Linked DNA regions of Homo sapiens: region 2 is linked to region 1. Evidence: fine-mapped expression QTL. A gene starts in region 1. The other region holds a variant in brackets. All regions are shown on one strand. Distances are between the middles of the regions.

The links. PIP is the estimated chance that this variant, and not a neighbour inherited with it, causes the effect.
Region 2: its variant is fine-mapped to the expression of FBXW8 in tibial artery (GTEx, PIP above 0.99).

The regions. Positions count from the first base shown.
Region 1 is chr12:116,908,610-116,913,609 of GRCh38, forward strand. It overlaps FBXW8 (F-box and WD repeat domain containing 8), which reads left to right and starts at 2,341. Exons shown (of 11, transcript NM_153348.3): 1 at 2,341-2,746. The coding sequence starts at 2,429. It also overlaps the pseudogene RPL36P15. RefSeq lists silencers at 2,169-2,388, 2,549-2,808.
Region 2 is chr12:116,963,996-116,969,529 of GRCh38, forward strand. It overlaps FBXW8 (F-box and WD repeat domain containing 8), which reads left to right. Exons shown (of 11, transcript NM_153348.3): 5 at 702-859. Among named protein-coding and RNA genes, the nearest start is that of FBXW8, 56 kb to the left of the region's middle. The variant A/G (reference allele first, on the strand shown) is at 2,866.

The DNA of each region.
Region 1 (5,000 bases):
AATGGCTGCCAAGAAGAACTGAGACTTCTTCCCCTTCTGTGTATAATAAAACCTTTACGGAAAAAAAAGAGAATGCTTACTTGTATTGGATGCTTATGTTCCATCTTGCATCACTTCACTCATCTTTTACCTTAGTCACTGCTGTAGCAACTGGCTTTGTGCACGTGTAACCTGACAGTCGTTCCTGTTAGCTGCACAGTGTACCTCCTGCTTTTTGCCCCAGAGCATCTCTGCTGCCTTGGTACGGAACATCCATGATAATCCGTTTACTTATACCCAATCTAGAAGTGGGAGGTTGTTAAAGCTCCTTGGCTTAGCCTTTCTCTAGTAGGGGATGAGAGTCACTGGACAAATGCTTTCCTCTTCTGGCTCTTATCTCTTGGGAGGACAATTCTGAGCTGTGTTCTAAGGCTCCTTAGAAGGTGCTAATGGAATGAGCCTAAATTGCCACAGTAGGACCAACTCAGAGATGCTCTTTCTTTTTTTTGTTTTTTTGAGACAGAGTCTCGCACTGTCGCCCAAGCTGGAGTGTAGTGGTGTGAATATACGCCCAACCATATACTCTAATTTTCTACAGTGAAGGTTGTCCAAGCCTGGTTTCCCACAGTAAGCAAGCCTGAGCCCTGGGTTTGTAGGCAGCTAGTTTATTTACAGAAGTGATTCTAGAGAAGAGGCCTGAGAGACTAAGAAGAGTTAGACAAGGAATAAGGGACAGTTAATTGCAAGAGCATCTTTGAGCCTGGAGTGGTGGCTCACACCTGTAACCCCAGCACTTTGGGAGGCTGAGGTGGGTGGATCACTTGAGGTCAGGAGTTCAAGACTAGTCTGGCCAACATGGTGAAACCCTATCTCTACTAAAAATACAAAAACTTAGCCAGGTGTGGTGGCGGGCACCTGTAGTCCTAGCTACTCAGGAGGCTGAGGCAGGAGAATGGCGTGAACCCGGGAGGCGGAGCTTCCAGCGAGCCGAGATCGCGCCACTGCACTCCAGCCTGGGCAACAGAGCGAGACTCCGTCTCAAAAACAAAACAAACCAAACAAACAAACAAACAAAAAACCATTTATTGAGCATGTATTAATCACCAGTCTCAAAGCTAAGAGTTGCCAATCTAGAAGGGAAGGGATATATATATATACATAAAAATAAAATTACAAATTGTGTTATGTATTATGATGAGAAGTACAGGATGCTGTGAGAATGAGTAACAGGGATACCTGATGTTTCTTGAGTGGAGGTTGGAAGATTAAGTGAAATGTGAGTTGAGATATGAAAGATGTGTAGGAGTTAACCAAGTCAAGGTGGGGGGAAAAGTTCCCTGCTGAGGGAATATCAGGTGCAAAGAAAACATTTTTAAGTGGAACGCCATCGTATGTCATTTTCTTTCCCATCTTAAAGCCCTTGGATTTCCTTCTGGAAATCTCTCTCCTAAGATCTGACCTTCCCTTGGCTGGTTTCTCTTTCAGATTTTTAAAAAAAAATTTTTATTTCCACAGGTTATTGGGAACAGGTGGTATTTGGTTACATGAGTAAGTTCTTTAGTGGTGATTTGTGAGATTTTGGTGCACGCATCACCCGAGCAGTATACACTGAACCCAAGTTATAGTCTTTTATCCCTCCCCACCTTCCCACCCTCCCCTCGTCCCCCTCCCCTGTTCCAAAGTCCCATAAGTCATTCTTATGCTTTTGCATCCTCGTAGCTTAGCTCCCACTTATATGTGAGAACATACGATGTTTGGTTTTCCATTCCTGAGTTACTTCACTTAGAATAATAGTCTCCAATCCCATCCAGGTTGCTACGAATGCCATGAATTCATTCCTTTTTTATGGCTGAGTAGTATTCCACCATATGTATATATCAGTTTCTTTATCCACCTGTTGATTCTCTTTTAGATTTTAATTTAAATAACATCTTAAACAGACTTTCACTATCAATCCTTACTCCCCTTACCTTACCTTATTTTGTTTTCTTCCTAATACCTATCACTGATTTAAATGTTCATATTTCTTTGTTTAAAGTCTCCCTACTTAAACGCATGCTCCAAGACGTCAGAGTTTTTGTTTTGTTTTACAGATTTAAATGCTGAATTCTTGGTGCCTGGCATATAGTAGTTGCTGAATGAATGTTTGTTGAATGAAGGAACAATGCTTGGCGCAAAGTCAGAGCTTAGCAAAAGTGATAGGCAGCAGAGCTGACGGGCTGAGGGGCAGCTGCGTAAACCTCTGCTTTGGGCGCCACAAGCCACAAGCCGGACCACCACGTGCGTACAGGGGCAGCGCCGGGGGCGTGGCGGGGGCGTGGACGCCCACCCGGAACCCTAGAGCGGCGGCGGCAGCGGCTTCCGGCCGCGGCGGACACTTCCCTGGGCGGGACTGTCTCGTGGCACCCGGTGGAACCGAGGAGAACGTGGAGCGCCGGGAGCGGCGAATATGGACGACTACAGCCTGGATGAGTTCCGTCGGCGCTGGCAGGAGGAGCTGGCGCAGGCCCAGGCGCCGAAGAAGCGGCGACGGCCCGAGGCTGCCGAGAGGCGGGCTCGGCGGCCGGAGGTGGGCTCCGGGCGCGGCGAACAGGCCTCGGGGGACCCGGCGCTGGCCCAGCGTCTCCTGGAGGGCGCGGGGAGGCCCCCGGCGGCGCGGGCGACTCGGGCCGAGGGGCAGGACGTAGCGAGCCGCTCACGTTCTCCTCTGGCCCGCGAGGGCGCCGGGGGCGGGGAGCAGCTGGTGGACCAGCTCATCCGCGACCTGGTGAGTGGCCGTCGCCTCCCCCCCGCCCATGCCTGCGCCGGCCCCCGCCCCCAGGACAAACCCCTGCAGTGATTTGGAGAGTAACTGTGTGCCACTAGTTGCCCGAGAAAATGAGTAGACGCACAAACACCAATGTTTGTGCTTGCATAGGGGTCTTTCTGGAAGCAGCACTTCCCAACCAGGGCGATTTTGTTCCCCCAGATGTGGCAGTGTCTGCAGACATTTTTGGGTGCCTCATCGGGGTGTGTATGTGTGCATGTTACTGGGCATCTAGTGGGTAGAGGCCAGAGATGCTCCTGAACATCCTACAGTGTACAGGACACCACGCACAAAAAAATTATCCAGGACAAAATATCAGTAAGTGTGGGGTTGAGAAATCCTGCTCTTGAAGGCTACCTAAACTTTGAACAAAGGTTGCCTTTGAAAAGGAGGACCCAGATGATGGATAGGAAGTAATTTTACCTTTGTATACTGTTTGCACTATTTAATTTTTGTAACCGTGCACGTATTCAAAAAAATTATCTCAGAAAAAAAGGAAGAAGAGGAGGAAGAATCTCCTGGGCACTTTCATTAGGATAGAGTTTCTTATCTTTTTGTGGGGCGTGGATACCTTGGAGAATCTGGAGGAAGCTGGGGACCCTGTGTCCGTTAAAAATAATCCCCTTCAGAAAGTTGGGAAAATCAAGAACACCTGAAATGCATCCGTGGCTCCCAGGTTAAGAGGACAAGGCTCCAGGTTCTAATGGTTTGATTTAAATTAGGCCCAAAGGAAGTCCCTACAGCTTTACAATTGGGAACCCACTTTTTTTTTTCCTGTTTTTTTTTTTTTTTCTTTCTTTCTTTCTTTTCTGAGACAGGGTCTTGCTCTGTTGCCCAGGCTAGAGTGTACTGTTGCTCTCCCGGCCCACTGCAGCCTCAAACTGCCTGGCTCAAGCCATCCTCTTCCCTCAGCATCCCGCGTAGCTGGGACTACACGCATGCGCCACCACACTCAGCTAATTTTTTAAATTTTTTGGTAGAGACAAGGTCTCCCTGTATTGCCCAGTCTGGTCTCAAACTCCTGGGCCCAAGTGATCCTCCCAATTGAGAATCATTCTTTTTTTTTTTTTTTTTTTTTGAGACGGAGTCTCGCTCGCTCTGTCGCCCAGGCTGGAGTTGCAGTGGCGCGATCTCGGCTCACTGCAAGTTCCGCCTCCTAGGTTCACGCCATTCTCCTGCCTCAGCCTCCCCAGTAGCTGGGACTAACAGGCGCCCACCACCACGCCCGGCTAATTTCTTTTTGTATTTTTAGTAGAGATGGGGTTTCACTGTGTTAGCCAGGATGGTCTCGATCTCCTGACCTCGTGATCCGCCCGCCTCGGCCTCCCTAAGTGCTGGGATTACAGGCGTGAGCCACCGCGCCCGGCCGAGAATAATTCTTTTAAGTGGCAAGCTGTTTCAAGAAATAATGGCCTATTATTTTATGTAATATGTAGTTTACTCAAATAGCATTAATAGCTACTATTTGAGTTTTTACCAAGTGTTTAGTCCTGTGCTCTGCCCTAATTCGAATATAACAATCCTGTGAGGTAGATTTTAACTCTCCTTTTACAAATGAAGAAACTCAGAGATTCTCTGTAACTTGCCCAGCATTACCCCACTGATAGATTCTGGGGATTGAATTTGGATCCAGGTCTTTTCAACTCCAAGTTTCACCACGTGAACTTGAGTTGGCATAAGAATCACTTGAGGCTTGGTTATAATATAGGTTCTGGGCCCTCCCCAGACCTGCTAACTCCATCACCAGGGAAGGGGCCCTGAAATCTGATGACTGGTATGATCAGGCAAGTTTAAGACATTATACTCTACTGTATAGCCTCCTTTGGTTTAAGGTCCTGATTCTCAAGGCTTTCCATTTGTAACACCTTAGAGGTATAGGCATTGATGCCAAAAATAGTAAAGAAGCAAATCATGTACAGTTGACCTTTGAACAACCTGGGGGGTTAGGAGAACTGACCTCCTTGCAGTCAAAAATCTGTGTATAACTTTTGACTCTCCCAAAACTTAACTACGAATAGCCTACTGTTGACCAGAAGCCTTATAGATAAGTCAGTTAACACATATTTTGTATCTTCTGTGTGTTATATACTGTAGCATTATAATAAAGTAAGCTAGAGGAGAAAGTGTCATTAAGAAAATTATAAGAGAAAATGTATTTACTATTCATTAAGTGAAAGTGGCTCATCACAAAGGCCATCATTCTCATTGCCTTCAT
Region 2 (5,534 bases), 56 kb after region 1:
TCTGAGTAGGTTCGGCCTGGCCTGGCTTTGATGGAAGCAGTCATTTGTTGGAGTGGCACTAGTCATAGGAGAGAGTGAGTACTTCTATTTTCTAAGTGGGCAAAACCGGGCAGTGTCGCGCATTCAGCAAGAGCTTTTCATGAGCAGGCAGCACTGTCTGGCTGCTAAAGGCAAGATTTAATTGTTTCAGCAAATCAATTAGTCTTCAGGGACTTTAATCAGTCAAATCTGATGCATGGATGAGGTATTAGAAAGCCTGTGCCTGTGAGACCATTAGTTCTGAGTATCCCTGCAGCATCTCTCTCTGTCTTTCCTGTGAGTGAGTGTGTGCGTTTGTGGGTAAATAGTGGGGCTTATACAAATTTCTGCAAGTGATCCCTGTAGTGGGAGAGCTTGCAGGAGCAGATTGTTGTAATAGTGTAAAAGGAAAAGCAAGGAGATCTTGCTACCCATGTCTTATTATTGTTTTCTCATTTGAAATTGTCACCATTGTGCTGTGAGAATGTGAAGCGTGTTCACAGCCTTCTGTCATCTAGTTGACATTTTCTCCTGTTGGAGTCACTCATCTAAACAGTGCCTCAGCAGTGGCTCTACACCACCCGATTCTTACTTGTCTGTTGTTGTAAGGCTCTGTGCATTTTCCCCACCATAGCCCTGCTCTTCAATCTCCTTTTGGAACCAAGTGTGTCGTTCTCTTCCAGATATACATCAGGGGATGTGAGAGTGTGGGACACCCGCACCTGGGACTACGTAGCCCCCTTCCTGGAATCAGAGGACGAGGAGGATGAGCCTGGAATGCAGCCAAATGTCTCCTTTGTGAGGATAAACAGCTCGTTGGCAGTAGCAGCTTATGAGGATGGTAAGTAACCACAACCCTCCTCCCTATTAAGGAAAAAAAAAAGCTTTACAAAAATTAAGCAGCTGTGGCCGGCTCCCCCCTGTAATCCCTCCATATGTACACGTGGGCACACACACATGTTCACACACATACACTCACTCTTGCTTTTATTTGAAGAAGTTGGCCAACAACCGTCAATGCATTAGTAGGCATTGGAACACAGCACCCATTAAAACTGGTGTTTAATTCCTACTGGAACTGTCAGGCTGGGCGCTAGTGCCAGACACAAGGCTGGCCAAAGCATCTTAAGCAAATAACTTGTTTGATGTAAAATATTAAATATACTTGGCCTACTTTTCCTTTAGCCTCTGCTCAGCCCAAAGGGAATAGTGAAAAGGGGATAGACATAGGTCATCTATTGATAAATGTAGTTATAGAAAAATAAAAGTCAGTGCCTACCTTTTCCTGTCACTTAATATACCATACCAGATAATTGGTAATAATATGTTTTCTCTTTGACATTGATAGAATTCTTTTTGTACATGAACAACTATGGATTTTTGGAACTAGGTACGAATAGTCTAAAGTTAGCTTTATCTATGCAAAGAAACTCTTGACAGCGTATAACTACTAGAAATGGTCATTTCAATGGCCATGATATCCAGTATGCCCACCTGTCATGCTCCTATCCTCCGTTATGTTGTGAAGTGTTGAATCTCCACAAGCTTCATGTCCCCACTTGCCCAAAAGTTGGGACCACAGCATATTTCAGAATGTTAAGTGTTCATGTCATGGCACCACTGCAAATCTTCAGAGTCAGTGTGACATTAGCAGTTGGCTCAGAGGAACAAAACTAAAGTAGCTAATGGGGAATTTTATACCCATGTGCTGTTTAAAAATAAAAATTAGGGCTGAGATCTTACATACATACCTATATATATTTGAGACAGGGTCTCACTTTTTTGCCCTGGCTAGAGTGCAGTGGCACTATCTCAGTTCACTGCATCCTCAACCTCCCGGGATCCAGTGATCCTCCCACCTCAGTCTCCTGAGTAGCTGGGACTACAGGCGCATGCCACCATGCCCAGCTAATTTTTTTTTTTTTTTTTTTAAGAGATGGAGTTTTGCCGTGTTGTCCAGACTGGTCTTGAACTCCTGAGCTCAAACTATCCACCTGCTTCAGCCTCCCAAAGTGCTAGCATTATAGGCATAAGCCACTGCACCTGGCCTTGAAAATATTTTTATATTTTATATAATTACTTTAGCAACGTGATGTTGGTTTGATGTTAGTAGACACTACTGATGGATTTCCTTTTCAGCCTATAGAAATTCAGCTGAGCTGTTTCTGTGGTATAATTAATATTTCATATGTTTATTGAGACCCTGGATAGATACCATAAGAGCAGCTTGAACATGTTTGCTACTTTCCAAATTATCAATGAGTTTTGTTTCCAAAATACCTATGCAAAGATTGCAGTACTTTTAAGTTAGAATCATATAGTTTTAGGATCATCTAATAGCCTTTCCCTACCATTCACACACACGAACATGCACACACATATTCTTCTACAGATGGGGAAACAGAGGTGCAAAGAAGCCAGGTAGGTTGAAGTCAGCAGTGAATCCAGAACTGTGATTGTGTCTCCAGGGCCGTGCTGCGGTGGTCGTGCTGTTTGTGGAATCCTGAACATAAAGACTCTTGTAGAAATGTGCGCCCAATTGATTTGCAGCCCATGTCTCACATCTCGTGAGCTTGAAAATACAGCTTGAGGTGATGTGCAGGGGTGCTGCTGCTGGTTTTATATTGTGAGAATTGTCTTCATTGCCCTCATCCCCTGTTGTTGCACAGAAATGTTGGGAAACAATGTAGGCATGATAAAGAATCTACTTTTTTTTTTTGAGACAGGGTTTTGCTGTGCCACCCAGGCTGGAGTGCAGTGGCACCATCTCGGCTCACTGCAACCTCTGCCTCCCGGGTTCAAGTGATTCTCCTTCCTGCCTCAGCCTCCCGAGTAGCTGGGATTATG[A/G]GTGCCCACCACAACAACCAACTAATTTTTGTATTTTTACTAGAGACGGGGTTTCACCATGTTGGCCAGGCTAAGAATCTGCTTTCTTTGGTAAAATGCTTCGCAAGTGATTGCCAAAATGTATTTTAAATTCTTTTTTTTTTTAAAGTCATAGTTAGAATTCAAACAGAGCAAAAATGTATATAAAATGACAAAGAAAAAGTATGCAAAAAGAAGTCGAGGTATTCCTCCCTGTCCCACTTCCAGGCCCTCTCGCATTTTACTCGTGGGGGGTCCTGCTCTGTATACTTCTCTGCACCTTTTTTTTTTTTTTTAATAACCTAATGGCACATCTTGGTGATCTTCCGTGTTCACACTTACAGGGTAAACCTTATTCTTTTTAATGCCTGTGTAGTACTGCATTATGTGGCTGTACCATCATTTATTTATTAGGGTCCTCATTGATACACATTTGAGTTGTTCATTTTTGTTATTGAAAACAGTGCTGCAAGCAATATACTTGAACAAATGCCAGGATGGACTTGTCCAAGGGTGGCCCTGGGGTGAGGTGCTAGTGATTGCTAGGTTGGAGGCTATGGCTGCAGGCTTTGGCTGCTTTAGGCTTTGATAACTATTGCCAAATTGCCCTCCAAAAAGGTTTCACCAGTTTATAGTGTCACCAAAAGTATGTGAGAGTGACTGACAGGTAAAAATGGCATTTTATTGTCTTTGTTTGCCTTTCTTTAATTACATGTGGACATCTTTTCTTTGTGTGTTGTTAGCTGTTTCTATTTCTTTCTCTGCAAATTGTTTGTTCCTGTCTTTCTTCATTTTTCTTTTGGGTTGTCATCTTTTCTGGTTGAAAAGAAAGCTTGGGAAATAATCCTTGCCATATGTGTTTCCGATATTTTTTCCGTAAGTCACTTATTCTTTTTTGTTTGTTTTGAGATAGAGTCTGGCTTTGTCATCCAGACTGGAGTGCAGTGGTGCGATCTCGACTCACTACAACCTCCGTCTCCTGGGGTCAGGCGATTCTCCTGCCTCAGCCTCCTGAGTAGCTGGGATTACAGGCGCCTGCCACCACGCCCAGCTAATTTTTTATATTTTTAGTAGAGCTGGGCTTTCACCATGTTGGTCAGGCTGGTCTCGAACTCCTGACCTCAAGTGATCTGCCTGTCTTGGCCCCCACAAAGTGCTGGGATTACAGGCTTGAGCCACCGCGCCTGGCTTGTCATTTATTCTTTAATGGACTTGTTTTCTAGAAGGTACTTGGTATGTGTGAACAATGTTAATTTTTTAATCTAAAAGTGAGTGGGGTTATTTTGTAATTTAATGTTTTTGATTACTACATTTTTAGGGTTCAAAGATCAAAATAATATAAAGTTATATATTGAGAAATCTTGCTGCCACCCACTTTTGTCTGCTCCATTCTGAAGTAACCATATTTTTTACTTTCTTGTATATCCTTGTATTTTAGTATTACAAGTACAAGAAAATATGAGTGTGTATATTCTTATTGCCCCCTTTTTAAAAAACAAAAGATAGCATACTATTTACTTTACATGATTCCACACCTTGGCTTTTTTCTCTAAATAGCATATCTTAAAAGGGAGTGCATGTCTGTGTAGAGAGAGTACCCCGTTTGCACACCTGAATGGTAATTCCATTGTGTATAAGCACTTTGGTTTATTGAAGGACAGTTGTGTTGTGTTTGCCGTTACAGTGTTGTAGTGAAAAACCTTGTAAAGATGACATTTCACACAAGTGCAAGGAGGATTGTTTTCTGGGTTACAGGGTAAATGCAAGTGGGGTTTTACTATTTTATGCTCTTACCAGCAAGCCATGAGAGTGTGCCCGCTTCCTCACAGTTTTGCCAACAAAGTATGTTTCCAGCTTTTGGGTATTCATCAGTTTGAGAAGAAATGGTCACCAAGTGTAGTTTTAATTTACATTTCTCTTAATGTGAGAAAGGTTAAATTAAAAAAAAAATGTGTACCTGCTACTTGTAGTTCTTTCTTTTTCTTCTGTTACTGTTATGGCTTATTTTTTATATTTTTATCTTGACAAGTTCGTCTTGGATTAGCATGCAGTATGGTTCCAAGTACATCTTTTTTCCAGCATCTCTTCTCGGAGAGCCCATTTCTACCTAACTGGTTTGAGGTGCTGCCTTTATAAGCTTTTAGCTATGAAATTCACTTTGTATCTGGGTCTGTTTCTGAACTTTGTGCTCTGTTTCAGTTGGTCTGTCTGGCAGCTTAAATTTACATCAAGCTTGTCAGTCTTGTCCTTTGGGGTTTCACGTCATGGTTGGGAAGATGATTACTCAACGCCTGGGTAAAATCTATAAGTGCTTCCAAGGCTGCAGTGTTTCCATTGAAATCTTTGATTCGTTTCAAGTTCATTTTGGTATTAAGGGCTCTTCCTTTTTTAGAGCCCTTGTGTTTCCCTGCTCCCCTCTCATGCTGAGCTTGTTTCATTGGTCTGATTCGGGTTGTTACTGTTTCTGTGATAAACAACAACTTCTATTCTTTCCCCAGACGTCAGGTGGCGTTACCTTTGGTCCCCCTTCAGTTTAACAGATCGACACTATGATATTTACACTAACATTTTCGTGAATAGCTACTTTTGGGCAAAGACAGATTCAAATAAACCCACATTTTTATATTGCTTCTTTCCAGGAGCAGCTAACT